7 linked regions of the Homo sapiens genome follow. The protein of the gene in region 1 purifies or fractionates together with the protein of each later gene. This does not show direct contact. Each region holds a gene or a part of one and is shown in the gene's direction. Other genes may lie near its edges.

Region 1 (3,500 bases):
AAGTTCCCTCCTAAGACCCAAGCACACTCACACAAGCCGGCTCTCAGAGAGGCCACAGATTTGGGACTTGGAGAGACCAGAGGATCCTCATAAGAGCATAGGTATAGGGCAGCTTTTGGCCATCACAGCCCAAGTCTCTTGTTTTAATTCAGCTCGTCATATTTGGCTAATAGTTTAAATCCTGTGGCCATTAGTCATCATAGAAAATATAATAAAGAAAAATATATAAAACTTCTGCTATTGGGGAAATTCCCATAAGGGTGTGAGGATTTGAGGGGGAGGGGGAATGTACTTCTGCTATGAAATGCTGAGCGGCACATGGAAATTTTCGAGCAGTTTTAGAAGTATGACCTTTTTCTTGGTGTATGTGCATCATGTCTATGTCAGAGTTTAGGCCCTTTTCAGAAGTCTTCTTCCAGTATCACATTTCAAGAAGCAATAGTGAAACCCTGAGATCATCCGTTTTAAAATATTTCTCAAGTAGCAAAATCACAATTTAGTTTTTTAGGCTCTTCTGTGCCGGAGTTAATCCCAAGTACGATATACTTGCTATTGCTAAGGAAGAGGCTTGAGTAAAGTGGCACCTGATAGCTTATTTTAGAGAAGATCCAGCCTGTACCTCGTGTCCCAGATGTAGTGCTGCTGCGAGATGCTTTAGTGTGCTCTGCACCTCAATCTGTCCATGCTCTGGAGTGGTCATCTTCTTAGACATTCATCTGAATGTCTTTAGAACAGTGCACATGTATCCCCTATGCAGGATTGCTTAAGGGATTAAGAGATGGCTTTGGAGTAAGACAGGCCTGGGCTTGAATCCCAGCTTCACCACGTATTGGCCTTGACTGAGTTATATGACGCCTGCAAGTCTCAGTTTCATTAGCTGAAAAGTGAAGATAATATTACCTAACTCATAGGATTATTGTTATAGTAAAAAGACAATATATATCAAATGCTTAGCATAGTCTGGTAAATCAAAGCTCCCAACAAATAGTAGCCACTGGTAAAATGATTGTTATTGTTATTGTTTTGAATTTTAATAGTATGTTTTTTAATAATTAAAAGAATTACGCTCCTGTGAGTGACTTTGACACCACCAGTATGTTCAGCCTCATTAGCGTAAGCTCTTAAGTTCCTTCTATCATTCTTATTTTTGTGCCTCTACTGCATGCTAGGGTTGTAAGGCTGACTCAGACAGAACCTGCCCCAGAGATGACAGGACAGAGAACGAGAAAAATGTGTAGAAAACTGCAGTTGCATAACCAAGCAGTAAATTTGAGAGGGACAACTTGCTCCACCTAGGAGGTTAGGAAAGTATTCTCTGAGGATGTCAGGTTTGAACTGGAATATAAAGGATGGAGTAGGCATTGTTCAGGCAGAAGAAAGGAGCAAAAACATTCCAGGCAGAGGGAATATTTGCTGGAATGTTTGCAGGAGTGGTGGGAAATACAATCACTTTGTTTCTTCACAAGTTTACTGCAAGAATTTTCTTCCAGTAGTTAAAAGCTTCACTCCATTCTCCACTCTTGGGATCTGGAAAGATCTTTAAAAAACCACCACACTGTATTTTGGAGGAGGGCAGCAGGGCTAAGTGAGGTAACTAAGTTTTTCTGAACAATTCCTAGTGCCAGGCATTCATTTTACATAGAATCTGTGTGTCAGGAAAAGTCAGGGGGAAAGGTAGAGAAGAAAACCGCCCAAAGCCATGGTATAGAGGCAGGATTGGGATTTAAGCTTAGGTCTTTCTGGGCTGGAAGCCTCAGTGTGTTTATACATCAAGGGGTCAAGACCTGAATGCTCCCAGAGGCCAGGAAGGTACCACAAATAACGTAGCAGCCTTGGGTAGGCAGTTGGGAGGGACCAGTCCTCTGGAGACAGCATCCCACCTCAGATTCAATGCATTTTATAGATTCAAAACATTTTAGGGCCAAATAAAACTAGGTATGAGAGCAGATTCCATTCTTGAGTCTAATCACATCTTGGGAATCTTTTCTTTTTCATTAACATTTTAGTTAATTATTGCCACTGTGTTTTCATTCCAGTGTCTTACACTTAGCAATCATCCACCTTCATTCTCAACTTGTGAGGGATCTACTAGAAGTCACATCTGGTTTGATTTCTGATGACATTATCAACATGAGAAATGATCTGTACCAGGTAAGCAGAAATCTCAAGAAAACAACTGAAGAAAAATCTGTAGTTTACTTTTTCTTCTGTTATGTTTGGGTGCATGTTATTTTTAGTAATGTTAACAGTAGCAAAAACAAAAACAAACCTTTGTAGGTAATATCTAAAATCCCATTAGTTGAGAATGTTACTTTATGATGTAGGATCCTTTGATCTGTGGGTATAACAGCCATCAAGCCACAATGAAATTCAGCATCCCGCTGGGGGAAGGCAAACTTTAAACTTTAGAAATCAAACAGTTTTTTCATTTAAGAGGGAGAAACTAAAGTAAAAATGTCACATCTGTCAAGAAAAATAAAGTTAAAAAAAGTTTGAAAAGCCAGTAATTTATAATAATTTTGAAGTCTACTGAAACATACCTTGACAACATCCAGATTAAATGTATATCAAATGAAGCATTCTGAAATCACCACACAGAAAGGTTAAAAGTTTGCTTGAGGAGGAAAAGGTGTCTTTCAAAAGCAGAAAGACAGCTCCAAGTGAGGAAAAGTGGGAACACCAGAGTTTTGCCCAAATCAGGTTTTCTTAGGAATTAATTAGGTGGGCTGAAAATACAAGTTGAGGAACTGTTTTTTCCAGAGGTCTTCCAACACTGCAAAGGGAGAGTTAGCTGGAGACACAGCGAGGCCCTTTGATGGGCATATGCAGAATTCAGGGAGAGGCAAGGAGCCTGGGAGCCACTTCGGCAGAAGCAGAGCTTGGACGTTGGTGATGGGAGCCCAGTGACCCCAGCCAGCCTTTCTGGCTGAGCGACTGCACTGGCATGAAACCAAGATGGGGTTCGGCTCCTGAGGTTTCCTCCTTCCTGCCCCTGATTGCTTTTCCCACCTCACTGTCTTTCCCCTACTCCCACCAGTCTGCTGTATGGGGCTCCTGCCCTTGCCCACTTCTTACCTTTCCATTTGTCTCCTTCCCTTCATCGACCCGAAGCATCTTCCTCATCCTCCTTGGAGAGATGGTTTGCTGGTTCACGTGTATCTCTCACTCCAAAACTATGGCCAAAATCCTGTGTAATTATTTACTTAGTAAAGATATTTGTTCCTGCTCTCTCAGTTTTTATAGCAGTGATGTGAATCATTTCTATTTCCTCACTTTAAAGGAAAATGCTTTTATTATTTTAAAGAAAATTAATTAAAACTTCATTTTCTTTAAAGGAAATTAAAATATCTATTTTCTTATTTTTATTTCCATTCTTTAAAATGTGCTTTAGGCTGGGTGCGGTGGCTCACACCTATAATCCCAGCACTTTGGGAGGCCGAGGCAGGCGGATCATGAGATCAGGAGATCGAGATCATCCTGGCTAACATGGTGAAACCCCG
Region 2 (3,500 bases), on another chromosome or scaffold:
AAAAGTTTGTTCTCTGTGTAGGAATTCTTTAATATCTCAGGACATTAGCATGTTTCAGCAACATACTGGGTTTGGAGGTAAAGTACTAAATGTTTGACATTTATTTCATTTGATAATTGAAGTTTTCCTCAACGATTAATATAGCAATACATCTCCATTTATACTTTTAAGGAATTAGTAATTTTTAAATTACTTTTAAATTTGAGAACACTGTCATCAGTCATTAATACAAATTTAATTTTTTTAGTGGAATCAACTATGAAATTATAATCATAGATGATGGAAGCCCAGATGGAACAAGGGATGTTGCTGAACAGTTGGAGAAGATCTATGGGTCAGACAGAATTGTAAGTTATAAGAACATTTTTCTGTGATATGAATTGTGATTATGTAGGGGAAAGATGAGACATGAACAATGCTTAAATTCAATCTATTTGTTTAGAAACTGAAAAGATAAAGAGCAACTTACGCATTTGGGATTTAAATGCATTTTTGTTGTCCGTAAAATTTTACATATCTTTGGTATGTTGGGTCAGTGGTCATTTTACAGCAAAGAGTGAGCTTTTGGATGAACTCTGTTTATAACTAATTCTGCAGATAAATTTTCTTGAAGGGCAAAAATTAAAGCATGATACTGAATTGACAAGGAATATTATATAATTGGGTTATAATTGGTAGTGTGTGTGTGTCTTAATCTTTCTTGCTCCCTTTCGGTAAGTATTCTCATGCTTTCATTAGAGAATACTGCCTGAAATTAAGAGCGTGTAGGTAGAAAAAGTTACTGTTTTCTTGTGAAACATTAATGACTTCTTAGAGTACTTGGCATTTTTAGTCTATAGAATAGTCTTGTGAAAGTAGATTGACTGTATTAGTCCTAAACTTTAGATTCACCCACTGTACCTTGAAACTTGTTATTCTAATATAGAAGTTACTTAGGCAAATATAGAGTTTATTTTATAATGGCTTCATGAATTTTATTTTTGGTTACCGGTTTGTATTTACAAATGTTTATGTATACTCGAGCTCTTTTATAATTTATATTCACAAATTATTGCAGACCACAGTTTTTCAGTCTTGGCACTATTGACGTGTGGACAGATTAATTCTTTACTGTGGGGGTTGTCGTGTTTATTGTAGGATGTTCAGCACCGCATCTGGACTCTTCTCACTAGATGCCACTAGAAACCCCCCTCCCCACTTGGCAACTGCAAATGTTTGGATATTGTGAGATATTTCCTTAGGGGAAAAATTACCCTTTGCCTCCAGTAGAGAACCATTGGTATAGAGAAAGAAGTCCCTTTGAGAACCTTTATTGTTATTTACAGTTCAAGAAATGGTAAATTAATCATTTTAAAAAAAAGCCACTCAGTCTAAATATTCTTGATAAATCTCAGTAATAGAAATACTTTCTACTTAGAGGTGAGTGTCAGTTGTATGAGGTCTTGGTGGCAAGAGTTTAAAGGAACTGTGTTACTACATGGTAAATGTAGTTCTAGGAATTCTTTCAGTCTGTCTCACAGATGAGTAACTCAGGTCTGTCACACCTCAAGTCTTCTCTGAAAACCTTCTAATGGATGGGAATACAGAAAGAGGTAAAAAGTTGACAAATTTTCAGGCTTCTAGCAGAGACTTTCAGTAATGCTAGGTTTGAATTTTTGGCCAGTAGTTCCCTGTTTTCTTTAGAAGCCCAGGGTGAAGGCCACTGATTCACAACACTTTTGAGTTATGTGCTGCCATTTAATCTCGGACCATCAACCAGACAACATTTTGAATACTTTTGTCATAAAACCTCAGCCTTAGGATGTGATTGATTGATTTTAGGGAATGGTTACTAAACTGACCTTTCAAATTTTGGAACAACATTGTCTTCAAAGACATTTTTTCTATCAACCCAATAAAATTCAAAATGAGAAAAAAAGTTGCATTCACTGTTACGATTTCCCTCTACTACCAGATAAAATTCCTTATTCATTCATTATTTTATGACATTTAAATAAGTTAAACTAGAAAATGACTTTTAAAAAAAAACAGTATTAATCCATGCTAGGGATGACACTTGCTTTTAGTGACAGATGTATGTTTCGTTGAGAAAATGAAGGATATTGAAACCATGTTAGAATACCTCAGATAAAGTGTTCACCACAGATGCTTTGTCAGCCTTTCAGACTGGCTGAAATGAATCTTTCAGAAAAGAAGCCAAAGAAGATATTTTTAAAAATTCTGTAGGTGACACAACTGAAGCGAGAGGTTAGGTCATTTTTAATGACCTAACTAGGTAGGACCATAGAGAAATTGGGGGCACTTACTCTGAACTATTCACAGTGCTTACAAGGCAGAGATCTGAAATTGTGAAGGACTTCAACTGCTCTGTGTTGAATGCTTTTATTATGTTTGGTTTATGTAGTTTGTTTCATCTCCCAACTTGAGATCAGATAAAGTCATTTATATTTTGTCATATTTTCTTCCAGCTTTATTGAGGTATAATTGACAAAGTTATATATATTTAAAGTATGAATACCACATTTGGGGAATGAACCTGTCCATCACCTCACGTAGTTACCCTTGGGGGCAAGTTGACAGTGATGAGGACAGTTAAGATCTGCTCTCTGTAAATTTCAACTATATAATATGATACTATTAACTATAGTCACCGTGCTGTGTGGTAGATTCTTAGAACTTTGTCTTACATTTTGTCATTATTTTATAGTTTAGTATTTTAAAAACTTACTCTGATAATAAAATGTAACACGTTTATTATTCTTAAAACATCAAATGTAAGATAAAAAGGTTTGACTACTTGAAAATATTAAACTTCTGTCCATTCCTAAATACCAAAATATTTCTAACAAGATCAGTACCCCAACCAACCAGATAATTCATAAGACCAAAACTAGAAATGGCCAGTAAACAAGAAAAAAATACTGAGCCTCACTGATAAGTGAAGATTTACAAAACAGGAGGAGAGTACATATTAGCCTTATTAGCTGAAGATTTATTTTTATTTTCTCCTTTCTTTTTAACCCAGTGTTTCTGAGAGTATTATAGAACAAGTCCACTCAAATACTGTTGATCCTAGTATAAATTGATACTGTTTTTCTGAAGTATCATCTGGCAGTAATCTCATGACCCTCAAAAATCCTTAATGCCTTTGTAATAAGTATAAAGCAGTTTATAAAACTGTATATGTACTATAGTCTCAATTCTGTTTTTAAGTAACTTTTTTCAAGATTGTCTGTGATAAGTTTTACAAAGGTTCTTGTCAAACAAATTATAGTTTCCCATAAAAGTATTTTATAAGCAGCTGTGGCAAACATGCTTCAAAAAGTATATGCCTGTCATTCTTGCAAGCACTTTATGTGAATCCACTTGCTTGTTCCTCATGAAAGCCAAGTGAGAGGGGGCTTTGTCACGCCTCTTTATATTCTCAAGATCACATGGCAAATGAGTAGTGGCCAGGATTCAAACCCAGGCATTGTGGTTCCAGGGTTCATCTTCCTGTC
Region 3 (3,500 bases), on another chromosome or scaffold:
GATCCGCCTGCTTCAGCCCCACAAAGTGCTGAGATTACAGGCGTGAGCCACCGCGCCCAGCCTTTTTCAACTTTTAATCGCTTCTGGTAGGTGCTGCCCTGGTCATCACAGAGTAAAAAACATTTTTAGACTACCTGTGTTTCTATTTAAGTAGACTGAGCATAGCAACAATCATTAAATTAGTAGCCGCTTGAAAGTGCAGACAAAATCTGCCATTTGAATGGGCTGGTATTTTTTTAAACAAACCGATCATAAAAATTTTGATCTCCCAGCAAAATTAGTTTGGACCCAAAGACGAGGTGCCTAAATTCAAGGATCATAAAAAATTACTCTTTTTAAGATTTCAAGCTTCATAGACAAGTTTATTATTAATTGTGTAATATGTACTTACTAGTATGTAATAAGTCTTCATGCCTGGCTTATTTCATCTAGCATGTTTTCAAGGTTCATTCATTTTGCAGCATGTGTCAGAACTTTATTCTTTCTATGGCTGAATAAATATTCCATTGTATGTATACACCACATTTTGTTTTTACATTCTTCTGTTGATGGACACTTCGGTTGTTTCCACCTTTTCACTATTACGAAGAATGCTGCAGTGAACATTGGCATACAAATACCTATTTGAGTTCCCGCTTTCAATTTCTTTGGATATATAACTGCAAGTAGAATTGCTCGATCATATGTTAATTCTGGGTTTAGCTTTTTGAGGAACCACCAAACCGTTTTCCATTGCAGCTGCACTGTTTTACATTCCCACCAGCAGTGTTACTAGAATTCTAATTTCTCCACATCCTAGCCAACGTTTATTTTCTGTTAAAAAAAATTACTGACAATCCTAGTAGATGTGAAGTGGTGTCTCATTGTGGTTTAAATTTACGTTTAGTTGGCCAGGCATGGTGGCTCATGCCTGTAATCCCAGCACTTTGGGAGGCCGAGGCGGGCAGATCACGAGGTCAGGAGATTGAGACCATCCTGGCTAACACAGTGAAACCCCGTCTCTACTAAAATTACAAAAAATTAGCCGGGTGTGGTAGCAGACGCCTGTAGTCCCAACTACTCAGGAGGCTGAGGCAGGAGAATGGCATGAACCCAGGAGGTGGAGTTTGCAGTGAGCCAAGTTTGTGCCACTGCACTCCAGCCTGGGCGACAGAGCAAGACTCTGTCTCAAAAAAAAAAAAAAAGGAAAAAAGAAAAAGAAATAAATTTACATTTAGTTTACTAAAGTTTTATCTGCCTAATATACTACCATCACCCAAACCCAGCAGAACTGATCATTTCTTCTTCGTCATCATAACTATATTTGTATAGTTGCTTGAGTATAATTTGACTGTTGGGTTCTTATAGAAAAGTATGGTGTCAAAAAACACATTTTATAGATACATTTGTTCCAGTGAAGACAAAGAAGCCAGAGACTTTCAGACTCTGGGCCAGTTACTTTTACTAAAGAAATTTTTAACAATATAGGTGATTTTTTTTTTTTTAGCTAAATGAATATATTCCATAATTGGAAACAACTGAGAAGTGAGGAAGCTGGGCAGAAGTCAGCAGAGAAAGGTTCCGGCCTGTGATGTAGTATGCTTTTAAGTGAGGGTATCGTGGGGGGTAGAGGAAAATTTCATAGAAATGCCATCTCAACTTCAGCAAGCAATTAGTTACTTCAAAAATTTTTTGCCTTGAAAATTTGTTACTTGCATTTTGAGACTATCATAGGACCCTGGAAGTAGAAGTTACCAACTTGATTTTCTTCCCTCAGCATTTCTGTTTGAAACTTTTTAAATCTACAAAAAATGTGCAAGAATAGTATAGTGAACACCCATGTACTCTAAACACAGATTCAGCAATTATTAACAACTTACCACAGTTGGATGGCAAAACAAATTCATTTGTGGAAGAGGAAGATACACATGTGATACTAACCTGTAAACAGCTCACAGACGTGTTTATGACTTATAAATCCCTTAGTTTTAGAATATTTATGTTATATAGACCCATGCTAGACTAGTTAGATGGTTAATTTTTATGGAATACTTGAATGACTATATCTTGTGAGTAAATATTTTTTAAAATTAAAAAAGAAATCACCTTTATTAGAAGTAGTTTTTAAGTAGTTTTAGAAATTCAGTTGTATAGTGGCTGGGCGCGGTGGCTCATGCCTGTAATCTCAGCACTTTGGGAGGCCTAGGCGGGTGGATCACGAGGTCAGGAGATCGAGACCATCCTGGCTAACACGGTGAAACCCCGTCTCTACTAAAAATAGAAGAAAATTAGCTGGGCGTGGTGACAGGTGCCTGTAGTCCCAGCTACTCGGGAGACTGAGGCAGGAGAATGGCGTGAACCCGGGAGGCGGAGCTTGCAGTGAGCCGAGATCACGCCACTGCACTCCAACCTGGGCGACAGAGCAAGACTCCGTCTCAAAAAAAAAAAGAAAAGAAAAAAGAAATTCAGTTGTATATTTATTTCTGTCTTTTAGAGGAAGCTAATGCACAGACATGTAAGCTCCATGAATAAAGATTTCTGTTTTGTTCATTTCTATAAAATCACCATTTCCTAGAATAATGCCTAGCTTATAGTAGGCCTATATATTAATGAATGGATAAATGCCAGGTTATTGGAGCCCAAATATAATTAATGGAAATTTCCTTATAACTTGTTTAAAATGGAAGATTTTGTATACCTAATCACTTTTTAGGTGCAGTCTCTTTAACGTAATTCAGGTGATTTTGTTATTGTCTATATAAAATATATTAGAAAGACATTAAAGGTATTATTTTTCAAATAAAGGTGCCCTATATTTTGTTCAATTATAGGAAGCAGTGTGGTTCCTTTCCAACATAACAGCAGGCAACCAGCAACAAGTTCAAGCTGTAATAGATGCTGGATTAATTCCTATGATAATTCATCAGCTTGCTAAGGTTGGTCATATTATGAGTTCACCGTGTCTGTTAATCTGTTAATAACCAAGACTTTTTGGATAAAGAGTCCATTTTATGATCTCATTTTTAACCTTCAGGGGGACTTTGGAACACAAAAAGAAGCTGCTTGGGCAATCAGCAACTTAACAATAAGTGGCAGAAAAGATCAGGTGAGTTTGAAAACCTGTAACTGTCATGATTGTTAATACTGGAAAGCATGCTGCTCTCTTATGTTTCGTAGTTGCTGACTGTATTGTGTTCTTTTTGGGGAAAAGATAATTATTATTATTTTAAGAGATGGAGTCTCACTATGTTGCCCAGGCTAGAGTGCAGTTGCTATTCACAGGCATGACCATAACGCACTACAGCCTCCAACTCCTGGGCTCAAGATAGCCTCCTGCCTCAGCCTTCCATGTAGCACGACACCCTACTGGGAAATAGATAATTATATAAATAAAAATATTTCTTCTCTTTTGTTGTCTAGGTTGAGTACCTTGTACAGCAGAATGTAATACCACCGTTCTGTAATTTACTGTCAGTGAAAGATTCTCAAGTGGTTCAGGTGGTTCTAGATGGTCTAAAAAA
Region 4 (3,500 bases), on another chromosome or scaffold:
GTCCAGGGACTCGTTCTTGAGTCACCCCAGACCCTTGATCTGGCAAAAATGAGACTGACCCAGCAAGGAGGGAAAGACAGGACGACTAGGTGGTAGATAAACCTGGAAGTGAAGTGAAGAAAAAAGTGTAAGATGTGATCAACCTTGTCAGATTCTGCTGAGGATGCAAGTACGGGGAAGGTGGAATTGACCCTTGGGTTTGGCAGCAGTAGGTGTCAGCCATGAGCCTGACAATGTGGTGGAGACAAAAAAGCCAGGTGGGGATGGGCTCAGGGGAGGGGAGAGGAGCAGTAGAGGTGGCAAGTGTGGACGGTTCTTCTGGAGCTTTGCTGTTGGAGAGGAGGGGGTCATTGTTAGCAACGATAATAGAATAAAGAGGACTTTTATTTTATTTTATTGTTTTGAGACGAAGTCTCGCTCTTTTCCCATAGGCTGGAGTGCAATGGTGTGATCTCAGCTCACTGCAACCTCTGCTTCCTGGGTTTAAGTGATTCTCCTGCCTCAGCCTCCCGAGTAGCTGGGATTACAGGTGACTGCCACCACGCTCAGCTAAGTTTTGTATTTTTAGTAGAGACGGGGTTTCACCATGTTGGCCAGGCTGGTCTCGAACTCTTGACCTCAGGTGATCCGCCCACCTCGGCCTCCCAAAATGCTGGGATTACAGGTGTAAGCCACCATGCCCGGCCTAAAGAGGACTTTTTTAAGGTAGCAGGTATGCCAGTAGGCTGCACAGGGATGGAAGTGATCCATTAGAGGAGAGATGATGGAGCAGCAAGACCATCAGGAGTGAAGACTCCGTGACAGAGGATGGGACGCAGTGCCCAAGGGGAGGTTGGCCTTGCAGGGAAAGCACATGCCTGTCCCTCCCTCATTAGCTTCATTTGGACAAAACATGTAAAATCCGGTGTGTTGTGGAGGCCTTTTGATTGGGGAACTGTAACGCTGCCTATCGAGCAACAGCACTTTAAGCAGGTGGCTTTGTTCAAATTAAAGGTTCTTCTTTTTCTTTTCAGGCATCATGGACCGATCTAAAGAAAACTGCATTTCAGGACCTGTTAAGGTAAATTGAATAATCTGTAATCTCATTCACATTTATAAACCCACATGGAGGTTGGTCTTGTCGGGAATTCTTTCCGCCTTTACTTTGGATTTAAATTTAGATCCCTTACTGTGATCCTGGATATGAATTAGTCACTTTTCTCGTGTTCAGTAACATTTTGCTGCTTCTTAGAGTAGCTTTTTTGTTCTGCTTTGTCTTATAATCGGCTGCTTAAGTTTCTATATCCCTCCACTGTATGCAGGATAATAGTAATAATGCATCTGGCAGGAGTTCAAAACTTTTAAAATTGGCCATAAATATAAAATAATTAGAAAAAGGCTACCTTGAATTACTGTATTTGATTCTAAGTTCCTATGATAACGGCCATTTAAAAAATTGCTCTATATTTAAAATGTTTCTTTTTATTTGTCTTTGTCTGAATGCCTGCTGCGTTGTGGACAGTGTGCTAATTTCAGGAGTAACTGACTTTGTATTTGGAAGTCTTAACACCCTCTCTTTGTAGAGCACTCATACCGTTGAGCTGGGGATGGACTTTGAGGCTTTCATTTCTAGCACTTGTCCCTCACTTACAATGAGCTGTTGAAGCTGAAGGAAATCTCATCCCTCCTACCCCTTTTAGTTTGATTAGCTGAGGGTGTTAGAGTTAACTTAACAATTTAAGGTTGTAATACAGTACTTACAGGCGTATAAATAATACATTTCAAGGCTGGGCGCGGTGGCTCACGCCTGTAATCCCAGCACTTTGGGAGACCAAGGAGAGTGGATCACAAGGTCAGGAGTTCAAGACCGGCCTGGCCAAGATGGTGAAACCCTGTTTCTACTAAAAATACAAAAAATTAGCCAGGCGTGGTGGCAGGCGCCTGTCGTCCCAGCTGCTTGGGAGGCTGAGGCAGAGAATTGCTTGAACCTGGGAGGCAGAGGTTGCAGTGAGCCGAGATCATGCCACTGCACTCCAGTCTGGGTGACAGAGCAAGACTCCATCTCAAAAATAATAATAATAATACATTTTAGTAGTAACTTTGTGAAGTGTCTACATTTGTTTCCTCTTTGTCAGTTTTTTGCTCAATTCCATTTTGTCAATACTTGGAAAATGAAACATTGGTTAATCAATAGTACAGTAATAAGCTTATTGTGGAAAATCTTCGATATATGAAAACTTAGACTCTTCTAAAACTTCATGAAGATAATACCACTGTTGAACGTTTTGACGTATTTTTTTTTGGTCTTTTTCTTAAACGTATATTATCAAAGAAATTTCAATGGAACTGAGATTTTGGCATAAAGTTTTTGTATCATAGCTTTTTGCCAAATAGCAATGTAGTGTCTATTTCCAAATTATTGAGAAATTTTAGAAAGTGTCTCCTTCATTAATGGATATTTGTTAATAAAGCATGATTTTTAGGGGTGAGGAATTGGAGGGGATAGAAGGTATCATTCAGGTATTCTTAGCCACATACTAACTATCCTCTGGAGGTACTGATTAAAATACCTTTTCACCTTCCATCTCTTATCAGTGACATTCATTATTTTGCTATACTAGAGAACAAACTTTGTGAAATTCTCAATATATTCATCTTTTGCTTTCATGAATGCCAGAAAGTTTATTTTCTCTTCCATTCTAGGCTACAGCTCCAGTTGGAGGTCCAAAACGTGTTCTCGTGACTCAGCAATTTCCTTGTCAGAATCCATTACCTGTAAATAGTGGCCAGGCTCAGCGGGTCTTGTGTCCTTCAAATTCTTCCCAGCGCATTCCTTTGCAAGCACAAAAGCTTGTCTCCAGTCACAAGCCGGTTCAGAATCAGAAGCAGAAGCAATTGCAGGCAACCAGTGTACCTCATCCTGTCTCCAGGCCACTGAATAACACCCAAAAGAGCAAGCAGCCCCTGCCATCGGCACCTGGTAAACTAGCTTTTGAGACTCATTGGATAGTCCTTCTTTGTCGTCGTTGCTAAAAAAGCCAGTGTATATACTTGCACTTATTGTTTGGAGCCTTAGCTTTTATATCTGTTGAGGATGGGGAGAAAATATGGTGTCTGGGTTGAAGTAACAGTGTCTGCCCATGGGCCAGACCTATGCTAAAAATACAGACCTGATTCTCACCCTCTTGGAAGAGTTGGGCACCCAGGGAGGACACAGCATAAATTGGTGTCCTTTTGATTGCTTGTTACTGAGTCTGGATGTAGGGTGCTTGCAGTAAGTGACTTGAAGGGACTGAGATCTAAAGTGTGGGGGAAATCCAGAGAAGTGGGTGAACTGAGGCAGGCTGCGGTGAGGTCACCATGGGCATTGCTGGCCATGTTAAGGAATGGGGCCTCATCTCTAGGGCATTTGGAAGCTACTGAAGCTTTTTTGAACTCAGAAGGGAACTCTGCCTTTTAGAAAGTTTACTGTGGAAGGCCAGGCGCAGTGGCTCACGCCTGTAATCCCAGCGCTTTGGGAG
Region 5 (3,500 bases), on another chromosome or scaffold:
GGGAAGAGGTCATTTTCAGATGCTATCCTGTAGCTTAAACCTGGACTCCTTCCTGTGGGGCCTGGTCTGGGCCAGGGATGCTCTGAAGAGTTGTGTTGCCAGGGCCTCACTCTGTCTGCCTCTGCCCACTCCACAAGGGACATACCCAGTGGCCCACTGTGTGTAGTCATGGAGGGGAGAGTGGTCACAAGGTCCAGAGCTGTGGGTATAGCCTTTCTGAGTATACAGTTTGGAGTTCCTGAAGGGTTTAGGACATCACTTGAAGGTATTATGGCCCAGGAGCCCAGAAATGTCTGCATAGCCCGCTTTGGCCCAGCTATACCTCTTCTGCATATGATTCCAAGGGAGATATATATCCATATATATGTATACATATATATATGCATGTGTATATGCGTATATATGTATACGTGTATGTGTATATACATATGTTCATGTGTGCATATGTACGTATATGCATATATATGTATACATACATGTATACATATTTGTGCATACACACATACACATGCATACATATGCATGCATAGGTATATATGCATATGTATGTATATGTATGCTTATGTATATGCATATGTATGTATATGTATGCTTATGTATATATGCATATGTATGCATGTGTATGTATAGGTATGCATGTGTATGTATGTATATGCATGTGTATGTATAGGTATGCATGTGTATGTATGTATATGCATGTGTATAGGTATGCATGTGTATGTATGTATATGCATGTGTATGTATAGGTATGCATGTGTATGTATGTATATGCATGTGTATGTATAGGTATGCATGTGTATGTATGTATATGCATGTGTATGTATAGGTATGCATGTGTATGTATGTATATGCATGTGTATGTATAGGTATGCATGTGTATGTATGTATATGCATGTGTATGTATAGGTATGCATGTGTGTGTATGTATAGGTATGCATGTGTATGTATGTATATGCATGTGTATGTATAGGTATGCATGTGTATGTATGTATATGCATGTGTATGTATATGCATGCATATGTATGTATATGCATGCATGTGTATGTACGTATATGCGTACATATGTATGCATGTATATGTATGCATATGTATATGTATACGCATATGCATACATATATACATGTATGCATGTATACACACATGCATGTGTATATATGCATACCCACACATATGCATGTGTACACGCCCACACATGCATATATGCATGCCCACACACATGCATATCAACACATATATGCATATACGCATATCTACACATATACATACATGCATATCTACACGTGTATATATGTATATCTACACATGTGTTCACATACATATATACACATATGTATATGTGTATATATGTATGACAAGTAAAAAGGGAGGACTTTATTAGCAGATGGGGCTACCCTTAGTTTTCTTTCCAGCGTAGAGCTTTTTGCGAAGTTGGGCTTGATGGACACATGGCCTGACCCAAGGCCAAACCTCAGCCCAGGAGTACGTCTCAGGGTCACTGTAGCCCCTGGCTGCCCACACTGGGAAGGAGGGAATGAAAGCCTATTGGAGAGAAGAGGTTGGAGAGGGGCAAGTTGCTGGGTCCTCCTGTAGAGTGGGAGTGGGCTCTGGCTTAGTTTTTCTGCTGAGACACTTGGATGCAGGAGGAAGGAGAGAGTCCATGAGCCTGCATGTGACAGGTTCTGTGGTGATTTTGCCCAGAGGGCCTGCAGTTTTGCTTTTTGAAGGAGCTTTAGCAGATTAACCTAACAGGGAATGTGAACCCACAGTGGTTTATGCAGAGCTCTGCCTTTGCATTTCCAAGTCCTTGTTCTTTTAATGTTCCAGGAAGTTGGGCTGGGCTCTCCCAGGGCTGTGTCTTGTTCACTATAATGTCCTTCAGTGCCCTACACGGTACCTAGAATGTAGGAGGTATTCAGAGAAGATAAATGAAAGAATAACGTTTAGAGGAATAAACTCATTTTTTCCTCTAAAAGAGAACCAGAAGATCTTTTGGATTGATACTTGTCCCAGGTTCAGTTAATATGGTGGTTAAAAAGGAATGACTCTTTGGTGACTGCTTTGTAAGCCCAGCAGGGACAGAACTGGCCCAGTCCCTATGACGTGTCACCCCATTTCCTTTCCCACCCCATTCCCACAAAAGGTAACTGGCTCTTCCTATGTTGACTATACCTGCCTTTTTTCTGCCTAAAGTGACCGTCTGGTTCCTGAGCTTGACACAATTGTCCCTTTGGAATCAACCAAAGCCTACAACATGGTGGACATCATACACTCTGTAAGTGCCACATCTGTTTGTCTTGCCTGTCCTAGTCAGCCACATTCATGGGCATTGTGCTTCGGCTTAGTGAGGAAGCACTGGACCACTTGGCCTCCATGTCAGACAGCACAGGTCGGGAATAGGGTGGGCACAGGACCAGTGGCCACTGAGTAGTGTGTTCTGGAAAGACCTAGTGGCTATAGATACCCTAGTGGCACAGATGGACTTGAGGGCTGGAGATAGGAGTAGTAAGGGCCAGCAGAGCTCAGGAGTCTTTAGAAGGCCCTCTGAGGATCATAAATTAGGGGCCATGTCCACAGAGTCTAGAGTGAGGCCAGAGTGATCATTGTTAAGTATCATTGGGGCCCTCTGCTCAGAGGGGGTTTTGTCTTTATAGAGAAGAGAGTACACAGGGCATCCTAGAAGGTTGGACTGTGTGTGTGGAGGTCCGTGGGAGACAGGAGCCATTTGTACCTTTTTTTGGTACAGCAGATTCCTGGGTCATTAAGTAAAGGGGACAGTGTTGGGCAAACTGAAGGCATCTGTAGATGGCCAATGCCTTCCTTAAGGGTACACTGTGCTCTCGGTAGTCCTTGTGCAACACATCGTGATGGCTCTCTGGTAACTCTAGAAGTCAGATTCTCCCTCTTCCCTAGGGTTTGCTGTTTTCTGTTATTGTTTTTGTCTTTTTTATTCTTGTAGTCTCTTCCTGCACCAAGGATTAGCCTGAGATGTAACCTTAAGGTCTTCCTTAGGTCTTTTCTGAGCCTTTGCAGGGGCACGTGCAATCACTTTCTAATTTTCCCTGCATATGCAGTTGTTTTTGAGTGTCCTAGTTGTTAACGTCTGGCTCCCAAAAGTAGAAAAAGAGAAAAAAAATGAAGATGGTAAAAAGATGTCAGCCCTTTAAATTCCTTGGAAGTCAGTTCAGCCCAAAGCAGGAGAGCCTCGCAACAGTGTGGGGAGTTGTAGCAACAGTGACCACCCATCTCTTTGCACCTCTGTGATCAGAAGCAGCAGTCAGCAAGCACAGATTCTCAATATTTGGAGGACAGGGTCCTTTTATGCCCACCCCGGCTCCTGCAAGCTGTGTGCAAACTGCTGCAGGAACACTTGCGGAAATATCTGTCATGGAGCTGGGGTGGGGGATGGGTAGCTGCTACTATGCTAAGAGCTGAAATTAACTCCAATTTTCAGTCCAATCCTTCCCCTGGAAGTTGCAGTCTTTCAACAGACGCCAGAGTCA
Region 6 (3,058 bases), on another chromosome or scaffold:
TATATTCTGTCACCTAGGCTGGAGTGCAGTGTCACGATCCCAATTTACTGCAACCTCTGCCTCCTGGGTTCAAGTGATTCTCCTGCCTCAGCTTCTTGGTAGCTGGGATCACAGGCGTGCACCACCACACCCGGCTAATTTTTGTAATTTTAGTAGAGACAGGGTTTTACCATGTTGGCCAGGTTGTTCTTGAACTCCTGGCCTCAAGTGATCACCTGCCTTGGCCTCCCAAAGTGCCGGGATTACAGGCATGAGCCACTGCGTCTGGCCATTTATGATAATTTTTTTAAGGTAGCTCTTAAAGTTTGTGCCTTAGGGTGTGGTGGCTCACACCTGTAATCCCAGCACTTTGGGAGGCCAAGGCGGGAGGATCACATGAGACCAGGAGTTCAAGACCAGCCTGTCTAACATGGTAAAACCCTGTCTCTACTAAAGATACCAACCAAAAAAAATTAGCCTGGGCGTGGTGGCTCGTGCCTATAATCCCATCACTTTGGAAGGCCAAGGCGGGAGGGTCACTTGAGGTCAGGAGTTGGAGACCAGCCTGGCCAACAGGTTGAAACCCCCTTTCTACTAAAAATACAAAACGTAGCCGTGCGTGGTGGCACGTGCATGTAATCCCACCTACTGGGGAGGCTGGGGTGAGAGAACTGCTTGAACCCAGGAGGCAGAGGTTGCAGTGAGCCAAGATCGCGCCACTGCACTCCAACCTGGGTGACAGAGTGAGACTCCGTCTCACAAAAAGATAATAAATAATAAAGTTTCTGCCTTAATATATATCCCACAGCCTAACAGGTATGTGAAGAAGCCCAAGAGGAACTCAACGATTCTTGGTAACCCCTAGATTATGTACTTAATATTGGAGTTGGGACTTTCAGCTTAGGATGCTTCCTTTTCTGTTTGCATATACTAAGTTTTCCACTTAACGTGGGTCAGGTTCAAAAGTTTAGCTATTCAGATGTTCATAGAAATAGCTAGATACCTAGATTGGTCCAATAATTGGAAAATAGTTTTATGTTGAAACAAAATGGAAGCCTTTTTTTTTTTTTTCAGATTTGCAGCCAAGATTGTCAATAAGTTTCTATGGAGAAATAATTATTTCTAGCTGACATTGTAGGTTTAAGGAGTTCCTGTCCCCATTAACCCATCTTAACCAAGTGGTTGCTGAGAGTGACAACAGGAGAGCAATGCCAGTTTTCTTGGCTTTAAGGGACAGAGTTCTCACATTGCCCTGTGTTCACAGTGTGGTTTGATTTACATAGGTCTGGAGGGTGAGCGACCTGCGAGACTCACAAGAGGGGAAGCTGACAGAGATACCTACAGACGGAGTGCTGTGCCACGTGAGTAAATGCATCACCTATATTAGGGGTGTTGGGGTGAAATGTCTGGATTCTCACAGCTGGCTCTGGCTGGGTGGGGCTCAGCCCTTGATGATGACAAAATGACCAGGAAAGATTCTTGGTTTCACTCTGCAGAGCATCAGAACAGCTGGAGTCCTTTGTGCTTCTTTCTTCATGCAGTGATTTCATAGATGAGAATTAGGAGGAGGCTGGGATTTTTTAAAAAACAAAACTCAGGCCGGGCTCAGTGGCTCATGTCTGTAATCCCAGCACTTTGGTTGGAGGGGGGGGGTCGAAGTGGGCAGATTACTTGAGGTCAGGAGTTCGAGACCAGCCTGGCCAACATGACGAAACCCTGTCTCTATTAAAAATACAAAAATTAGGGCGGTGTGGTGGTGGGCGTCTGTAGTCCCAGCTACTTAGGAGGCTGAGGCATGAGAATTGCTTGAACCTGGGAGGCAGAGGCCGCAGTGAGCCGAGATCATGCCATTGTATTAGATCTATGGCTCACACTGGGCACGAGGATAGGGGGAGGAAAGCAAATGCCAATAACAAATATGGTTTCAGTAATTGTTAAAGTTGTCACTCCAGCCTGGGTGACAGAGCAAGACTGTCTCAAAAAAAAAAAAAAACCTCTTCGGTAAAATGTGGAGCTTTTGTTAGTATTTTTGCAAAGGAATAATAGGATTCAACTTTTTTTTTTTTTTAATTTTCTTTCATTTTTGAGACAGTCTCGCTCTGTCACCCAGGCTGGAGTGCAGTGGCAAGATCTTAGCTCACTGCAAGCTCTGCCTCCTGGGTTCACGCCACTCTCCTGCCTCAGCCTCCCGAGTAGCTGGGACTACAGGCGACCGCCGCCATGCCCAGCTAATTTTTTTTGTATTTTTAGTAGAGATGGGGTTTCACCGTGTTAGCCAGGATGGTCTGGATATCCTGACCTCATGATCCGCCCGCCTCAGCCTGCCAAAGTGCTGGGATTACAGATGTGAGCCACCGCGCCCACCCGGATAAAGTCACTCGTTGTTGATTGTAATACAAAAGCAAGGTGTACAAGAAGAGTTTTTACTAACTTCTACCACTCTTAGCTTTTTTCTGTCATCTTTTGGAGAAGTGACCACTTGACCTGAGTACCATACAGGGTAGTAGAAGGAATGAATTTCTCCAGCCCTTGGTTCAGAGGAAGTTGGTGATACTGGAAGTTTAACGATTATGGGCCAGGCACAGTGGCTCATGCCTGTAATCCCAGCACTTTGGGAGGCCGAGGCAGGTGGATCACTTGAGGTCAGGAGTTCAAGACCAGCCTGGCCAGCATGGTAAAACCCCATCTCTACTTTAAAAAATTAGCTGGGCATGATGGTGTGTGCCTGCCTGTAATAATCTCAGCTACTCGGGAGGCTGAGGCGGGAGAATTGCTTGAACCTGGGAGGCGGAGGTTGCAGTGAGACAAGATCATGCCACTGCACTCCACCCTGGGCAACAGCAAGACCCTGTCTCAAAAGAAAAGAAAACGATTACTGAAACCATATTCGTTATTGGCATTTGCTTTCCTCCCCCTATTCTTGTACCCAATGTGAGCCATAGATCTAATACAAAATTTCCTCGTAGCCACACTTGAAAAAGCAAGTGGAAACAGGTTATTTGAGTACTAATGTCTTTTATTTAATCAAATATTTGTAAAAGTGAGTTGGGAATGGTGGTATGTGCCTATAGTCCCAGCT
Region 7 (3,500 bases), on another chromosome or scaffold:
TCTACTAAAAATACAAAAATTTGCTGGGCGTGGTGGCGCGTGCCTGTAATCCCAGCTACTCGGGAGGCTGAGGCAGGAAAATTGCTTGAACGAGGAGGTGGAGGTTGCAGTGAGCCAAGATCATGCCATTGCACTCCAGCCTGGGTGACAAGAGTGAAACTCTGTCTCTCAATAAATAAATAAATAAAAGTGCCGAGACTGGGTGCTGTAGCTCACGCCTGTAATCCCAGCACTTTGGGAGGCCGAGGCGGGTGGATCACCTGAAGTCAGGAGTTTGAGACCAGCTTGGCCAACATGGTGAAACCCTGTCTCTACTAAAAATACAAAAATTAGCCAGGCATGGTGGTGCATGCCTATAGTCCCAGCTACTAGGGAGGATGGCTTGAACCTGGGAGGCAGAGGTTGCAGTGAGCCAATATCGTGCCACTGCACTCCAGCTTGGGTGACAGAGTGACTCCATCTCAAAAACAAACAAAAAGTGCCAAGTATGGCCGGGCATGATGGGTCACGCCTGTAATCCTAGCACTTTGAGAGGTGGAGTCAGGAGGATTGCTTGAATCAGGAGTTCAAGACCAGCCTGAGTCACATAGTGTGATCCTGTCTCTAAAAAAAAAATAAAAAAATTAGCCGGCAGTGGTGGTCCATGCCTGAGTCCCAGCTACTTGGGAGAACTGCTTGAACCAAGGAGGTTCAGGATGTGGTGAGATGTGACTGCACCATGCACTCCAGCCTGGGTGACAGAGTGAGACGCTCTCTCAAAAAATAAAAATAAAAACATTTTTTTTTTTTTTTGGAGACGGAGTCTCGCTCTGTCGCCCAGGCTGGAGTGCAGTGGCGCAATCTCGGCTCACTGCAAGCTCTGCCTCCCGGGTTCACGCCATTCTCCTGCCTCAGCCTCCCGAGTAGCTGGGACTACAGGCGCCCGCCACCATGCCCGGCTAATTTTTTTGCGTTTTTAGTAGAGATGGAGTTTCCCCGTGTTAGCCAGGATGGTCTCGATCTCCTGACCTCGTGATCCGCCCGCCTCGGCCTCCCAAAGTGCTGGAATTACAGGCATGAGCCACCGCGCCTGGCCAAAAAACAATAAAAAATTAAAAAAAAAAAAAAAGGATGAAGAGCCAAGCACCGCTTGTGAGCTGAGGACCCAGTAGAGACTAGCTGCACCCAGGAGCCTCCCTTGGGGTGCTCACAGTCAAGCACTGGGGTCAGCAAATCTTTCCTTATTTTATTTTATTTTTTTTTTTGAGACGGAGTCTCATTCTGTCCCCCAGGCTGGAGTGCAGTGGCGCAATCTTGGCTCACTGCAAGCTCCACCTCCCGGGTTCACACCATTCTCCTGTCAGCCTTCCGAGTAGCTGGGACTACAGGCGCCTGACACCACGGCCGTCTAATTTTTTATATTTTTAGTAGAGACGTGGTTTCACTGTGTTAGCCAGGATGGTGTCTATCTCCTGACCTCGTGATCCGCCTGCCTCGGCCTCCCAAAATGCTGGGATTACAGGCGTGAGCCACCACGCCTGGACCCTAGCAAATCTTTCTTAAAGGGTCAGATGGTAAATCCTTCCTCTGTTGAAACTACTCAACTCTCCTCTTGCAGTGCGAAGGCAGCCACAGACAGTATATAAATGGCAGTGTTCCAATACAAAGATTTTTTGGTTGGTTTTTTGTTGTTTTTTTTTTGAGATGGAGTCTCACTGTGTTGCCCAGGCTGGAGTGCAGTGGGGCGATCTCAGTTCACTGCAACCTCCACCTCCCTGGTTTAAGTGACTCTCATGCCTCAGCCTCCCGAGTATCTGAGACTACAGGTGCATGCCACCACGCCAGGCTAATTTTTGTATTTTTTAGTAGAGACGGGGTTTCACCATGTTGGCCAGGCTAGTCTCGAACTCCTGACCTCAGGTGATCTGCTTGCCTCTGCCTCCCGAAGTGCTGGGATTATAAGCGTGAGCCACCGTACCCAGCTCCAATAAAATTTTATTTGCAAAAACAGGTGGCTGGCCTCCAGGCTGAGGTTTGCTCAACCCTCATCTAATGTAAAGCATGGGAATCCCATCTTCCCCTCTCGCTGGCTGTGTGGCTGGGGCATGGGACCTAACCTCTCTGAGCTCCCTCCCCATTCATATCAATAGGTTCTGGGACTGTTGCCATTTTGATACTCAGAAGTGCTTTCAGGGTGATAGCAGCCAGGGCTCTTGTTTCATTTTATTTTGTTTTACTGAGACAGGTCTTGCTCTGTCATCCAGGCTAGAATGCAGTGGCACAATCTTGGCTCACTGCAACCTCCGCCTCCCAGGTTCAAGCAATTCTCCTGCCTCAGCCTCCTGAGAAGCTGGGATTACAGTCATCTGCCACCATGCCCAGCTAATTTTTGTATTTTTAGTAGAGACAGGGTTTCACCATGTTGGCCAGGCTGGTCTCGAACTCCTGACCTCCAGTGATCCGCCCGCCTCGGCCTCCCAAAGTGCTGGGATTATAGGCAGGAGCCACTGCGCCCGGCCCCAGCCAGGGCTCTTTTTTTGCAGGATCATATGGAATAAACTGAGAACATGTGGGTGCTGTGTAAACCATAAACATGAAGTAATTGTGATCATTAGCCCTTGTGGTTAGATCTTAGTACAATTATGTGCTTAATCAGGCCTCAGTGACTTTTGTTTAACTAGGATGCATCCTCAGAGCAGCTCCAGTTCATTGAGCATTTACCACATTCAGCCATCTTCCTAGGGAGGTGCCAATTTGGGATATCCTTTCCATGTGCCCCTTCATTCCCCCAACCCCTGCTCCCTACTCCCACCCACCCCTTTGACAAAGAAGGAAACCAGGGCTCAGAGGGGTCAGGCCACATGTGCAGCAAGCTGGCTAGTAACTGAGTCTTTGTTCTTTCCCTTCATGTAGGTGCCCACTCCCACATCCGGGGACTGGGGCTGGACGATGCCTTGGAGCCTCGGCAGGTAGAGCAGAGGAGGCTGGGGTGTGAGGGCCTCTCCATGAAGGTCTTGGGTAGTGGGTACCCAGGGTCCTGGGGAGTGTGGGGACTATGTTACGGTCTTCTGGACCTTTGGCTACATACCCATAAACTTCAACCACATGTGGGTTTTCTTGGTACTAAAGAATTGATTAGGCTAGGTGTGGTGGCTCATGCCTGTAATCTCAGCACTTTGGGAGGCCAAGGTGGGTGGATCACCTGAAGTCAGAGTCAAGACCAGCCTGACCAACATGGTGAAACCCTGTCTCTACTAAAAATACAAAAATTAGCCGGGCATGGTGGTGCATGCCTGTAATTCCAGCTACTCAAGAGCCTAAGGCAGGAGAATTGCTTGAACCTGGGAGGTGGAGGTTGCAATGAGCCGAGATTGTGCCACTGCCCTCCAGCCTGGGTGACATCTCGGAAAAAAAAAAAAAGAATTGGGAGTGGGTAGCAATTGCTTTGCCACCTTAAAAAAAAGTTAGACTGGGTGCAATGGCTCACACTTGTAATCCCAATACTTTGGGAGGCTGAGATG

Evidence for each region.
Region 2: the proteins of NFKB1 (region 1) and DPM1 purify together in Homo sapiens (affinity purification with mass spectrometry; 2 studies listed by BioGRID and IntAct, with this or other methods). This does not show direct contact.
Region 3: the proteins of NFKB1 (region 1) and KPNA3 purify together in Homo sapiens (affinity purification with mass spectrometry; 2 studies listed by BioGRID, with this or other methods). This does not show direct contact.
Region 4: the proteins of NFKB1 (region 1) and AURKA purify together in Homo sapiens (affinity purification with mass spectrometry; 6 studies listed by BioGRID and IntAct, with this or other methods). This does not show direct contact.
Region 5: the proteins of NFKB1 (region 1) and PCCB purify together in Homo sapiens (tandem affinity purification; one large-scale study listed by IntAct). This does not show direct contact.
Region 6: the proteins of NFKB1 (region 1) and RPS10 purify together in Homo sapiens (affinity purification with mass spectrometry; 2 studies listed by BioGRID and IntAct, with this or other methods). This does not show direct contact.
Region 7: the proteins of NFKB1 (region 1) and RUVBL2 purify together in Homo sapiens (affinity purification with western blotting; 2 studies listed by BioGRID and IntAct, with this or other methods). This does not show direct contact.

Annotation. Positions count from the first base shown.
Region 1 is NC_000004.12:102,598,859-102,602,358, forward strand, and holds part of NFKB1 (nuclear factor NF-kappa-B p105 subunit), read left to right. Parts: exon of another isoform or gene 1-877; intron 878-2,036; coding exon 2,037-2,151; intron 2,152-2,786; exon of another isoform or gene 2,787-3,173; intron 3,174-3,500.
Region 2 is NC_000020.11:50,952,033-50,955,532, reverse strand, and holds part of DPM1 (dolichol-phosphate mannosyltransferase subunit 1), read left to right. Parts: intron 1-247; coding exon 248-347; intron 348-3,500. UniProt on the Homo sapiens protein: Transfers mannose from GDP-mannose to dolichol monophosphate to form dolichol phosphate mannose (Dol-P-Man) which is the mannosyl donor in pathways leading to N-glycosylation, glycosyl phosphatidylinositol membrane anchoring, and O-mannosylation of proteins; catalytic subunit of the dolichol-phosphate mannose (DPM) synthase complex.
Region 3 is NC_000013.11:49,705,683-49,709,182, reverse strand, and holds part of KPNA3 (importin subunit alpha-4), read left to right. Parts: intron 1-2,810; coding exon 2,811-2,915; intron 2,916-3,013; coding exon 3,014-3,085; intron 3,086-3,399; coding exon 3,400-3,500. UniProt on the Homo sapiens protein: Functions in nuclear protein import as an adapter protein for nuclear receptor KPNB1. Binds specifically and directly to substrates containing either a simple or bipartite NLS motif.
Region 4 is NC_000020.11:56,385,716-56,389,215, reverse strand, and holds part of AURKA (aurora kinase A), read left to right. Parts: intron 1-431; exon of another isoform or gene 432-807; coding exon of another isoform or gene 808-904; intron 905-1,013; coding exon of another isoform or gene 1,014-1,018; coding exon 1,019-1,060; intron 1,061-2,682; coding exon 2,683-2,959; intron 2,960-3,500. UniProt on the Homo sapiens protein: Mitotic serine/threonine kinase that contributes to the regulation of cell cycle progression.
Region 5 is NC_000003.12:136,298,840-136,302,339, forward strand, and holds part of PCCB (propionyl-CoA carboxylase beta chain, mitochondrial isoform 1 precursor), read left to right. Parts: intron 1-2,190; coding exon 2,191-2,272; intron 2,273-3,500. UniProt on the Homo sapiens protein: This is one of the 2 subunits of the biotin-dependent propionyl-CoA carboxylase (PCC), a mitochondrial enzyme involved in the catabolism of odd chain fatty acids, branched-chain amino acids isoleucine, threonine, methionine, and valine and other metabolites.
Region 6 is NC_000006.12:34,420,012-34,423,069, reverse strand, and holds part of RPS10 (small ribosomal subunit protein eS10), read left to right. Parts: intron 1-1,262; coding exon 1,263-1,340; intron 1,341-3,058. Other genes in the region: RPS10-NUDT3 protein, read left to right, coding at 1,263-1,340. UniProt on the Homo sapiens protein: Component of the 40S ribosomal subunit. The ribosome is a large ribonucleoprotein complex responsible for the synthesis of proteins in the cell.
Region 7 is NC_000019.10:49,000,387-49,003,886, forward strand, and holds part of RUVBL2 (ruvB-like 2), read left to right. Parts: intron 1-2,892; coding exon 2,893-2,948; intron 2,949-3,500. UniProt on the Homo sapiens protein: Possesses single-stranded DNA-stimulated ATPase and ATP-dependent DNA helicase (5' to 3') activity; hexamerization is thought to be critical for ATP hydrolysis and adjacent subunits in the ring-like structure contribute to the ATPase activity.